3 linked regions of the Homo sapiens genome follow. Changing the gene in region 1 together with any one later gene gives a genetic interaction. Each region holds a gene or a part of one and is shown on either strand. Other genes may lie near its edges. The genes, in order: CDC6, TOP2A and TOP3A.

What was found.
Region 2: changes in CDC6 (region 1) and TOP2A are lethal when combined (synthetic lethality), as found in Homo sapiens cells (one large-scale study listed by BioGRID).
Region 3: changes in CDC6 (region 1) and TOP3A are lethal when combined (synthetic lethality), as found in Homo sapiens cells (one large-scale study listed by BioGRID).

The regions. Positions count from the first base shown.
Region 1 is NC_000017.11:40,297,768-40,301,421, reverse strand, and holds part of CDC6 (cell division control protein 6 homolog), read right to left. Parts: intron 595-3,654; coding exon 392-594; intron 1-391. UniProt on the Homo sapiens protein: Involved in the initiation of DNA replication. Also participates in checkpoint controls that ensure DNA replication is completed before mitosis is initiated.
Region 2 is NC_000017.11:40,407,803-40,411,456, forward strand, and holds part of TOP2A (DNA topoisomerase 2-alpha), read right to left. Parts: intron 3,654-3,654; coding exon 3,552-3,653; intron 3,445-3,551; coding exon 3,307-3,444; intron 829-3,306; coding exon 690-828; intron 323-689; coding exon 165-322; intron 1-164. UniProt on the Homo sapiens protein: Key decatenating enzyme that alters DNA topology by binding to two double-stranded DNA molecules, generating a double-stranded break in one of the strands, passing the intact strand through the broken strand, and religating the broken strand.
Region 3 is NC_000017.11:18,270,774-18,273,961, forward strand, and holds the end of TOP3A (DNA topoisomerase 3-alpha), read right to left. Parts: 3' UTR 655-3,188; downstream 1-654. UniProt on the Homo sapiens protein: Releases the supercoiling and torsional tension of DNA introduced during the DNA replication and transcription by transiently cleaving and rejoining one strand of the DNA duplex.

The sequences.
Region 1 (3,654 bases):
CTTATAGCCTTTAATCATTTAAGAAACCTGAGTCTGGGTTTGCAAAAACTTATCTGAATACCCTATTTCTTCCTCTTTTCAATAAAATCTTTGAACAGGCTTCTGTAGATATTCCCGAAAACCTATACAGTAATGTAGGAAAGGGGCTTTATATATTTCCTAGAGAGATGCAGAAATGAAGGGGAGGATAGGGAAAGGATTAATGATAAACTCTCAACCACAATCCAAGGGAAATAGGTGCCTTTTATATAGTACCAGTATTAATTCTTACTGTTAAAATCCATTTTAAATTTATTATCAGCTGAAGTATCATAGGCCTTTTGGAAAATACCTGCTCTGCAAAGCAGATTCTGATCTCTACCTCCGTTCCATCTGCTCCATCCCAACTTACCTTCCCCAGAGTGACCTCTTTGATTTTCAACTGCCTGATCAAGAGCATCAAAGAGCAAACCAAGATCTTCTGCTGAAGAGGGAAGGAATCTTGTGCTCCTTCTTGGCTCAAGGTCATCCTGTTACCATCAACTTCTGAGATGACTTGGGATATGTGAATAAGACCAACCCTCTTGGGAATCAGAGGCTCAGAAGGTGATTTACCTATAAAGTAAATAAGCCAAGCTTAATTCGATTTCTAAAATACTGTGTGTGTGTATGTATGATGAGACAGATGATACTAAGTTTGAGCTAAAGGAAATTCAAGTATAGTCACATGGTGGCAAAGCAGAGGTTTTAAATCTCTAACCAGAGGCCAAAGGATGAGAGATAATGCTATTCTCTTAAGGATGTCAAAATAATGTGGGATGACTTGAAAAGTAGGGTTACCCTTTCTCTGGGCCAAATAGTGAGCTGTTTTGTCCTATGGAATGTAATTTAATGTCAGAGGAACAAAACCCACCTCATGAAAGGACCAGAGAACTACTGTATTTTTTTTTGGGACAGGATCTCTGTCACTCAGGCTGGAGTACAGTGGCACTATCATGGCTCACTGCAGCCTTGGCTTCCTGGGTTCAAGTGATCCTCCTGCCTCAGCCTCCTGTGTAGCTAGGATTACAGGTACGTGCCACCATGCCAGGCTAGTTCCTAGTATCTCAGAGGTATAGAATAACAGAACCTTGAAGCAAAGATGGTGACTGTGCTTGGTAATTAAGAAAGGAAAAAAAAGGCCAGGTGCAGTGGCTCACGCCTGTAATCCCAGCACTTTGGGAGATCAAGGCGGGCAGATCACCTGAGGTCAGGAGTTGGAGACCAGCCTGCCCAACACGGCGAAACTCCATCTCTACTAAAAATACAAAAAATTAGCTGGATGTGGTGGCAGGCGCCTGTAATCCCAGCTACTTGGGAGGTTGAGGCAGAAGAATCACTTGAACCCGGGAGGCAGAGGTGCAGTGAGCCAAGATTGTGCCACTGCACTCCAGCCTGGACGACAAGAGTGAAACTCCATATAAAAAAAAAAGAAAGGGAAAAAAAAGTTGGAAAATTACCGAATATTTTGGATCAAATGAGTGGCTAAATGTGGAGAGTGAAGTCGCTGCCATGTCAGCCCTTCAGATGGCTTCCCCAAATGACCTTTGAGGTTTGGTTCACTTGCCCAAGCTGATTAGCAGTAGAGCAACACTTGAGAAAATGTCATTGGATATGCTAGCAGATAGCACCATCTTTTTTTTTTTTTTTTTCTTTTTGGTATTTTTTGTAGAGATGGGGTTTCATCATGTTGCCCAGGCTGGTCTTGAACTCCTTAGCTCAAAGCAATCTGCCCTCCTCGGCCTCCCAAAGCACTGGGATTATGGGCGTAAGCCACCATGCCTGGCCAGATATCATCATCTTAATAAAAGCCAGGGGTTGGGAAACTGCCAATAAGCTTCATAAGACTATATCCTTAGCAAACTACTGTAGGAACAGAAAACCAAATACCACATGTTCTCACTTCTAAGTGGGAGCTAAATGATGAGAACACATAGACACATAGTGGGGACAACACACACTGGGGCCTATAGGAGGGTGGAGGGAGAGGATCAGGAAAAATAACTAATGGCTTGAGCTCAGGAATTCATGACCAGCCTGTGCAACAAGGCGATGGGTTTCCCCCATCGCTACTAAAAATACAAAAAAAACAGCCGGGTGTGGTGGTGTGTGCCTGTGGTCCCAGCTACTCAGGAGGCTGGGGTGGGAGGATGGCTTGAGCCTGGGAGGAGGAGGTTGCATTGAGCCAAGATCACGCCACTGCACTCCAGCCTGGTGACAGAGCGAGACCCTGTCTCAAAAAAAAAAAAAAAAAAAAAAAAAAAAGACTATGGCCTTATCGTTTGGAGATGCATGAATTCCAAGACAAAGAAATGTGTTCTGTAACAACCTTTACCTGAAGTTACTTCCTGAAATCACTTGCAGTTGCCCCACAACAATTTACTTCTATAATATTACATTACCACAAAGGGATGCTGCAGAGGACTAATGGAGAAACCGGAGATCACAGATCAAGTAAAAGAATCTTAAAATTGAAAGGAATTTAGAAGTCTATTTTTACTCCCTATCCACTGGCCGAGTCCTCTCTAGAACAATCTCAACAAGTGGCATCTATCCAGCTTTTGTCTGAATATCTTCAATGCTGGAGAACCCACTATGTTTCAAGGAAGCCCAGTTAGTTCTAGTTATTATAAATTTTCTTCTTATATTTAGTTAAAGTCATTCTCCCTATAGCTTTCTGGAGCCCTTGAAAGCCAATCTCAACCTGGTATGGTGGCTCATGCCTGTAATTCCAAAGCTGTGGGAGGCTGAGGCAGGAGAATCACTTTATCCCAGGAGTTTGAGACCAGCCTGGGCAACATAAGGAGACTCCTCCACCCACTGACTCTACAAAAATTTTAAAATTAGCAGTAGCTGGAGCTGGGGAGGCTGAGGTGAGAGGACTGCTTGGGCCTGGGAGGTTGCAGCTGCAGTGAGCCATGATCGCACCAGCCATAATTGCACCACTGGACTCCAGCCTGGGAGACAAAGCAAGACCTTGTTTTACACAAAAAGAAAAAAAAAAAAGAAAGAAAAAAGCCAATCCCGCACAAACCAGAAGTCAAAAGATAGAACTTACAACCTCTTTACCTTTTTGAATTATGTTTGTGTTAGTGGTGCTCACAGGGGCCAGTGACAAGCCTAAATGTTACTGATGGGGAAAAAGGAGGAGGAAAAGGGGATAATCTGAAAAGTTGAAAAGGAGGAAGAAACCAGTATCTAAGTCTATACATTGGTATATATTGCCTACTATTAGCCTAAGCACTATTTTTGGCTACTTCTGAAACATTTTTAATTATTTTATTTTAGCAAATTGATGAAAAAAAGAAAGAATTTCATGCAGAACTATAATGCCAGAAACAATTTTACTTAAACTCCCAGCCAGTGTAGGAGTGAAAAAGAAACAATCAAATCTTACTATTCTGTTTATAAAGACTAACACTGGATATCAAATACTGTAAGATACGTAGTTCATGGCCATTTTACATTTGCCACAACCAAAACAAGGCTGAGGGAATGGAATATTAATTTTGTCATTTGTGATACCATGCAGCTTACTGTAGCAGTATGATCTTTTTACCTCTACCCTCTAGACTTGTTTAAAAGCTTGAGATATCCCAAGTTGAACTTATAATTCTTCTTATTATTATTCTTTTG
Region 2 (3,654 bases), 110 kb from region 1:
ATCAGAAAGGTCTGTTAAAATAGGCTACAATGTACCTAATTTCTCAAAATAAGCACAAATTGTCTAAAATATATTTTAAAATGCCTAATGAGGGAATTAAATATAAGCATAAAGTCTTGTATTATAAATTAGATTTAGATTCTGAAGATCGTCTTATATTCTACCTGCTTATGAGAAGCTTCTCGAACATTGAGTATTTTTCCTCTAAGAGGGAAAACCCCATATTTGTCTCTCCCAACCACACCAAGGCCTGAAACAGCCAAAGTTTTGGCTGAATCTCCCTCAGTCAGGATAAGCGTACACTCAGTGGAGTTTCGGCCCCCTAAAATAAAAATATACATATTAATATTAGCACATTTAGTTCAACCTCAAATATACTAACTTGAACATGCTGTTTATAGCCTTGTGATAAAACACAATTTACTATATAATGAGCAAAATTATTTGTTAGGTAATAGATCATAATATAAACATTCTTGTTTTATACTCCAAAATAATCACCTCAATATTATTTATAACATGGAAATGACCTAAATCTTCCATAATAGGAAACGGGCCGATTTTTAACAAGTTATTCTGTTGAATATAGTTATTCTGTCAAGGGAAAAATAAATATCCGTGGTATGCCATTAATGAATAAAATAACAACTATAAGACTTAAAAGTTTGGAAACATTATTAAATATATACCTGCATCATTGGCATCATCGAGTTTGGGAATTCCCTTGATTCTATTATGTTTTACAGCTGAACACTTCTTGTTTAACTGGACTTGGGCCTTAAACTTCACCCAGTTTAGTATGCTTTCTACAATACCACAGCCAATGGCCTGAAAACGAGAAGATTCATATTAGGGATCATATTAGGGAAGAAGGGATCTATCAGAAATCTAGAATACAAATGAGCCTTAATACAAATAAAAATGATTCAAAAATTAAAAAGATGTAGAACAATAATTTCTGGATAGAGGGTGGCACATCTTCCCATGTCAGGTTATCACCACTGAGGGAGCTGCTCCTTTTGGTTCATTCGTTCAATAAATATTTACTATATAATTATATTGTGCTAGCACTGAGCTACTTGTTGGAGATATAGTGGTTAAAACAAATTAGACCAGGCACGGTGGCTCACGCCTATAATCCCAGCACTTTAGGAGGCCAAGGTGGGCAGAACACCTGAGGTCAGGAGTTTGAGACCGGCCTGGCCAACATGGCGAAACCCCGGCTCTACTAAAAATACAAAAATTAGCTGGCGTGGTGGTGGGCACCTGTAATTCCAGCTACTCGGGAGGCTGAGGCAGGAGAATCGCTTGAACCCAGGAGGTAGAGGTTGCAGCGAGCCAAGATCGCACCATTGCACTCCAGCCTGGGTGACAAAAGTGAAACTCCGTCTCAAAAAAAAAAAAAAAAAAAAAAAAAAGGGTAGCCAGGCATGGTGGTGGTGAAATGGCTGTAATCCTAGCTGCTTGGGAGGCTGAGGCAGGAGAATTGCTTTAACCTGGGAGGCGCGGGTTGCAGTGAACTGAGATCAAGCCACGGCACTCCAGCCTGGGAAACAGTGAGAAGCTGTCTCCAAAAAAAAAAATTAAAAATAAATAAATAAAATTAGACACAAATAAAACAAATTGAGACACTTGTCCTCATCAAGTTTAAGACACAACATAGAAGACAGACATAGCTGGGTGCAGTGGCTTACGCCTGTAATCACAGCACTTTAGGAGGCCGAGGATGGTGGATCAAGTGAGGCCAGGAGTTCAAGACCAGCCTGGCCAACATGGTAAAACCCCATCTCTATTAAAAATACAAAAATTAGCTGGATGTGATGGTGCATGTCTGTAATCCCCGCTACTCAGGAGGCTGGAGAATCCCAGCTACTCAGGAGGCAAGGAGAATCGCTTGAACCTGGGAGGCAGAGATTGCAATGAGCCAGGATTACGTCACTGCACTGTAGCCTGGGCAACACAGCAAGACTCTGTCTCAAAAAAAAAAAAAAAAAAGACTGGGCACAGTGGCTCATGGCTGTAATCCCAACACTTTGGAAGGCCGAGATGGGTGGATCATTTGAGGTCAGGAGTTTGAGACCAGCCTGACCAACATGGTGAAACCCTGTCTCTACTGAAAATACAACAACAAAAAAATTAGCCAGGCATGGTGATGCATGCCTGTAATCTCAGCTACTCGGGAGGCTGAGGCAAGAGAATCACTGAAACCTAGGAGGCGGAGGTTGCAGTGAGCCGAGATCGTGCCACTGCATTCCAGCCTGGGCGACAGAGCGAGACTCTGCCTAAAAAAAAAGACAGAAATAAAATAAGTTACAGTGTTATAAGTGTTATGGATAAGCAAAAAGTTTGCTAATAAGGTATGTTCAATATTATATTGGAACCAACTTAGGTGGGGGGAAGGGTAGAAAGTAAAGGCTTTCCTGAGGAAAGGACAAGACCTAAAGTAGCCAGGTGAAAAGGATGTATTTCATGCAGAGGGATTAGCATGTGAATAAACTCTGAGGAGGGGAAGAGCACTGTGCTTTTCAGTAATTTAAAAGCAACAGGACAATATACGAAAAACTGGCACTGAGATGAGTTGGAGAAGTAGGTGTAATTAGATTACAGCAGATCTTTCTTGTTGGCCAAATTATGGAATTTGGACTTTCCCTGAGTGGAAGTCATTGAAAGATTTCAAATGAGAGTGAAGATAAAAATGGGTGTTTTAACACAAAAGTCACTCAAAAGCATTCCAAGGAAAGGACTTAACCAGTATGAAGGTTAAGAACCTATTGTAGTAAACCAAAAAAGAGATAATGGTGAGAAGCTACTGCAGCATCCAAGAGATGATTCTTATTGACCGGATTAGAGAGGAGGGGAAATAAAGGAAGGCTCCCAGCTTTCTTGTTTATACAACCTAGAGGTTGGTTGGGGCTTTTTACTAAGATAGGAAGTTGTTTTTTTGTTGGAGAGTGGGGGGCTGCTTGTATGGGCAAATCAGTGAGTATGGAGGTAACAAATTCAATTTTGGATGTGTTGACTGAAAGCAAGTCTTAGGCATTTAAGTGAGGGTGTTTGTTAAACAGCTAGATTAATTCAAAAGTGATCTAAGCTTAATGGTAAAATGTAATTGGGAAATACTGAAATATAGACGGTCATTAAGTCTTTGGTAAATCAGTTAAAGTAAAGCCCTTTTTTACTTCCTTTTCAGATTGGGAAGACTTGGAGAAGCTCACTATGAGAAGAATCATTGTTTCTGCAGAGCTAAGAAGTGCAATGGAAAATAAAGTCAGGTGTTTCTATTTTTATTTTCCTCTAAGTACTCACAGCTTTGATAAATTTTTCACTCAATTGGCATGTTGATCCAAAGCTCTTGGGTTGTAAAGTCATGTTTTCTTTTGTCTGAGAGTCAAAGGTTGGGTTTTCAATTAAGGCATTTACAAAAATCCACATGTGATTTTTCACCTGCAATAGAAGTTGATATTAAGCCACTAAAAATGTACTCATGCTTTATTTATAGCCTTTCTCTTCTTCCTTGACTTTAGAAAAAGAAAACTGCCAAAAGCACATACCTGATGTGCTTTTACTGCAACACCACCCTTGTTCTTCTTCTTCACAACATCAACAAGTTTAGTCACAATCTGATCAGCTACATAATCAACATGTCTGCCACCC
Region 3 (3,188 bases), about 22 Mb from region 1:
CCTGGCTCTGGGGAGTGGGGGAGCCGGATGTTGGTGACAAGGCTTATTTTTAATTCTGGATGCTCTAAGTATCCGGGGTGGGATCAGGCAGAGACTCCTCAACTGCTACAAGTTGTGTGGGGTGGTCTCGTTTCCTCTGCTGTTAAGTGCAAGCAATCACCTGGGGAAGCATGTGCAGGACGTCAGCCAGGCTTCTTTGCCAAGATGGCAGGGAAGCCTCCAGTTACCCCATGGGCTCTCAGCATTGGTGTGGAGAGCAGGGAGGGGCTTTTTACAAAACTCTGATGGGGCTTGGGGGGACATGGCATCAGAGATTAGGTTTCAAGGCCAGGTTAGCTGCTTGGTAGAGGAAAACACTTAACCCAACAGAGCTATGGTTCCTGCACAAAAAGGACAGGAGATGCTGTCTTGCTGGCAGCAGGAGGTTGAAACCACTGTAGGTGACAGCCTGGCCAGTGCCTAGTCTCAGCTAGATCCATCAAGGGGGGGGCGGGGGGGGTCCATTTTCTTTTCCTTGGTTTTGCATTGCACAAGCTGCAGATGTGGCTCAACACAGGGACTAAAAACCCTTCCAGTCAACGTTGACGGGGTAGGATGAGCTGCATGCTGCTAACCTGAGTGGGCCATCGAGAGAGACTTAGAAATTCCAACAGGTTTGATTTGTGAAGCTTTAATTTGCAGTCGTGCCTGACCGTAAGCCTTCACTAGAGAGCCTCAATATGAACAAGGACACCCCATTACGGATGAGGCAACTGGGGCTCCAAGGATGAGGCTGCACACCCAGGGTGGCAGAAGAGGCCAGGAAGTGGGAGCTGAGCCTGGGTCTGTCTGATCTCAGATGCCTGGCCCAGTCCATGGTGCAGCCCAATCCTGCAGTTTGCTTTTGAGACACACAGTTGCCTGCAGAGATGTGAAAACCACAAAGGCATCTGATATCCAGAAACTATTAAGAACTCCTACAACTCAACAACAAAGACAGACAACACAATTTAAAAATGGGGGAAGAGACCAGGTGTGATGGCTCCTGCCTGTTAATCCTAGCACTTTGGGAGGCCGAGGCTGGTAGATCACCTGAGGTCACGAGTTTGAGACCAGCCTGGCCAACATGGTGAAACCCCGTCTTTACTAAAAATACTAAACAAATTAGCTGGGTGTGGAGGCAGATGCCTGTAATTCCAGCTACTTGGGAGGCTGAGGCAGGAGAACTGCTTGAACCCAGGAGGCAGAGGTTGCAGTGAGCCAAGATCGCACCACTGCACTCCAGCCTGGGCACAAGAGCGAAACTCCATCTCAAAAAAAAATAAAAAATAAAAAATAAAAAATGGGTGAAGAACTTAAATCGACATTCTCCAAAGAATGTATACCAATGGCCAGTAAGCCTGTGGAAAGATGGTCAATGTCATTAATGACTAGGAAAATGCAAAACAAAACCACAATGACACGCCACTTCATACCCACTAGGATGACAAAACACTAGGATGGCTATAATACAAGAAAAGGAAAGGAACAAGTGTTCACAAGGATATGGAGAAGCAGTAACCCTGGTGTGCTGCTGGTGGGTGTAAAGTGGTGCATCCACTGTGGAAAATTTGTAGGTTCCTCAAAAAGTCAAAACATGGAGTTATGGTATAAAACTACAATTCCATTCCTCGGCATATGCCCAAAATAACTGAAAACAAGTCATCAGACACTCATACACCAATGTTCACAACAGTGCTATTCACAATAGCCAAAAAGTGGAAACAACCCAATGTCCATCAACTGACAAATGGATAATCGTGTGGTATATTCATACAGTGGGCTATCAGCTTATCATAAACATCGAGGACTGACATGCTACAATGTGGATGAGCCTGACAAACATCAGCCAAGTCAAAGAAACCAGACACAGGATGTCATGTATGGTAGGATTTCATTTTTTTTTTTTTCTTGAGACAGAGTTTCACTCTTTTTGCCCAGGCTGGAGTGCAATGGCCCGATCTCAGCTCACTGCAACCTCTGCTTCCTGAGTAGCTGGGATTACAGGTGCCTGACACCACGCCCGGCTAATTTTTGTATTTTTTTAGAGACGGGGTTTCATCATATTGGTCAGGCTGGTCTCGAACTCCTGACCTCAGGTGATCTGCCCACCTTGGCCTCCCAAAGTGCTAGGATTACAGGCGTGAGCCACTGTGCCCAGCCTGGTATGATTCCATTTAAACAAAATATCCAGAGTAGGTAAACCCACAGAGACAAAAAGTGGTTGGTGGTACCCCGGAGCTGGGATAGGCAAAATCACACACGCAGGGCCACAACCCACACCCACTCGGAGATGTTCCAGGAACAATCTCAGGAACCTGCATTTGTAAAAATCCTCCCCAATACCCCATCAGAACACAGAGCCACTGGTCTATGGGCCAGGAGCCCAAGACCTGAGAACAATCCTAGTTTCTTCAACAACTAGCAACATGACTGGGCAACTCACACCCACCTCTGCTCATCTTCTAAACTGTAAATCAGAGTCCATATGGCTTGTATTATTCACAAGGTTTTTGTGAAGGCAAACGGGGGAACATGGCCACCACTGGAAAAAGTGGAAGATGGAAAGTTAGTGATCTGAATCTGAACCTTTCATTAGACATCTCTGCTCTGAGGGACCATCTGTGGGGTGAGAAGAAATTGGGCTCAGTGCTTACCATGTGGAAAGGGAGGAAGGGCTCTCCACATGGGACACAAGGGACAGCCATGAAGGACAGAGGCTGACGAGACCTCCCAGGGTGAGCTCCTTCCAGCACTGGCTGGTACCTGTTGCTTCTGCAAATGTTCCCCAGACCCTCTGCACTCTCGCAGGTCAGAGTAAAAAAAGGTTGGATTCTTTCATTTTAAAAAAAGTTTGAGACAGGGTCTTACTCTGTCACCCAGGCTGGAGTGCAGTGGTGTGATCATGGCTTGCTGCAGCCTCAAACTCTTGGGTTCAAAGGATCCTCCCACTTCAGCCTCCTGAGCAGCTGAACTAAAGACGTGTACAACTGTGCTTGTTATATTTTTAAAAATAGAGACAAGGTCTAACTATGTTGCCCAGGCTGGTCTTGAACTCCTGATCTCAAGCAATCCTCCAGCCTTGGCCTCCCTAAGTGCTGGATTACAGGTGTGAGCCTCCACGCCCTGCCGGGGTTGGATTCTTTTTATTTTTTTAAATTTTTAAATTT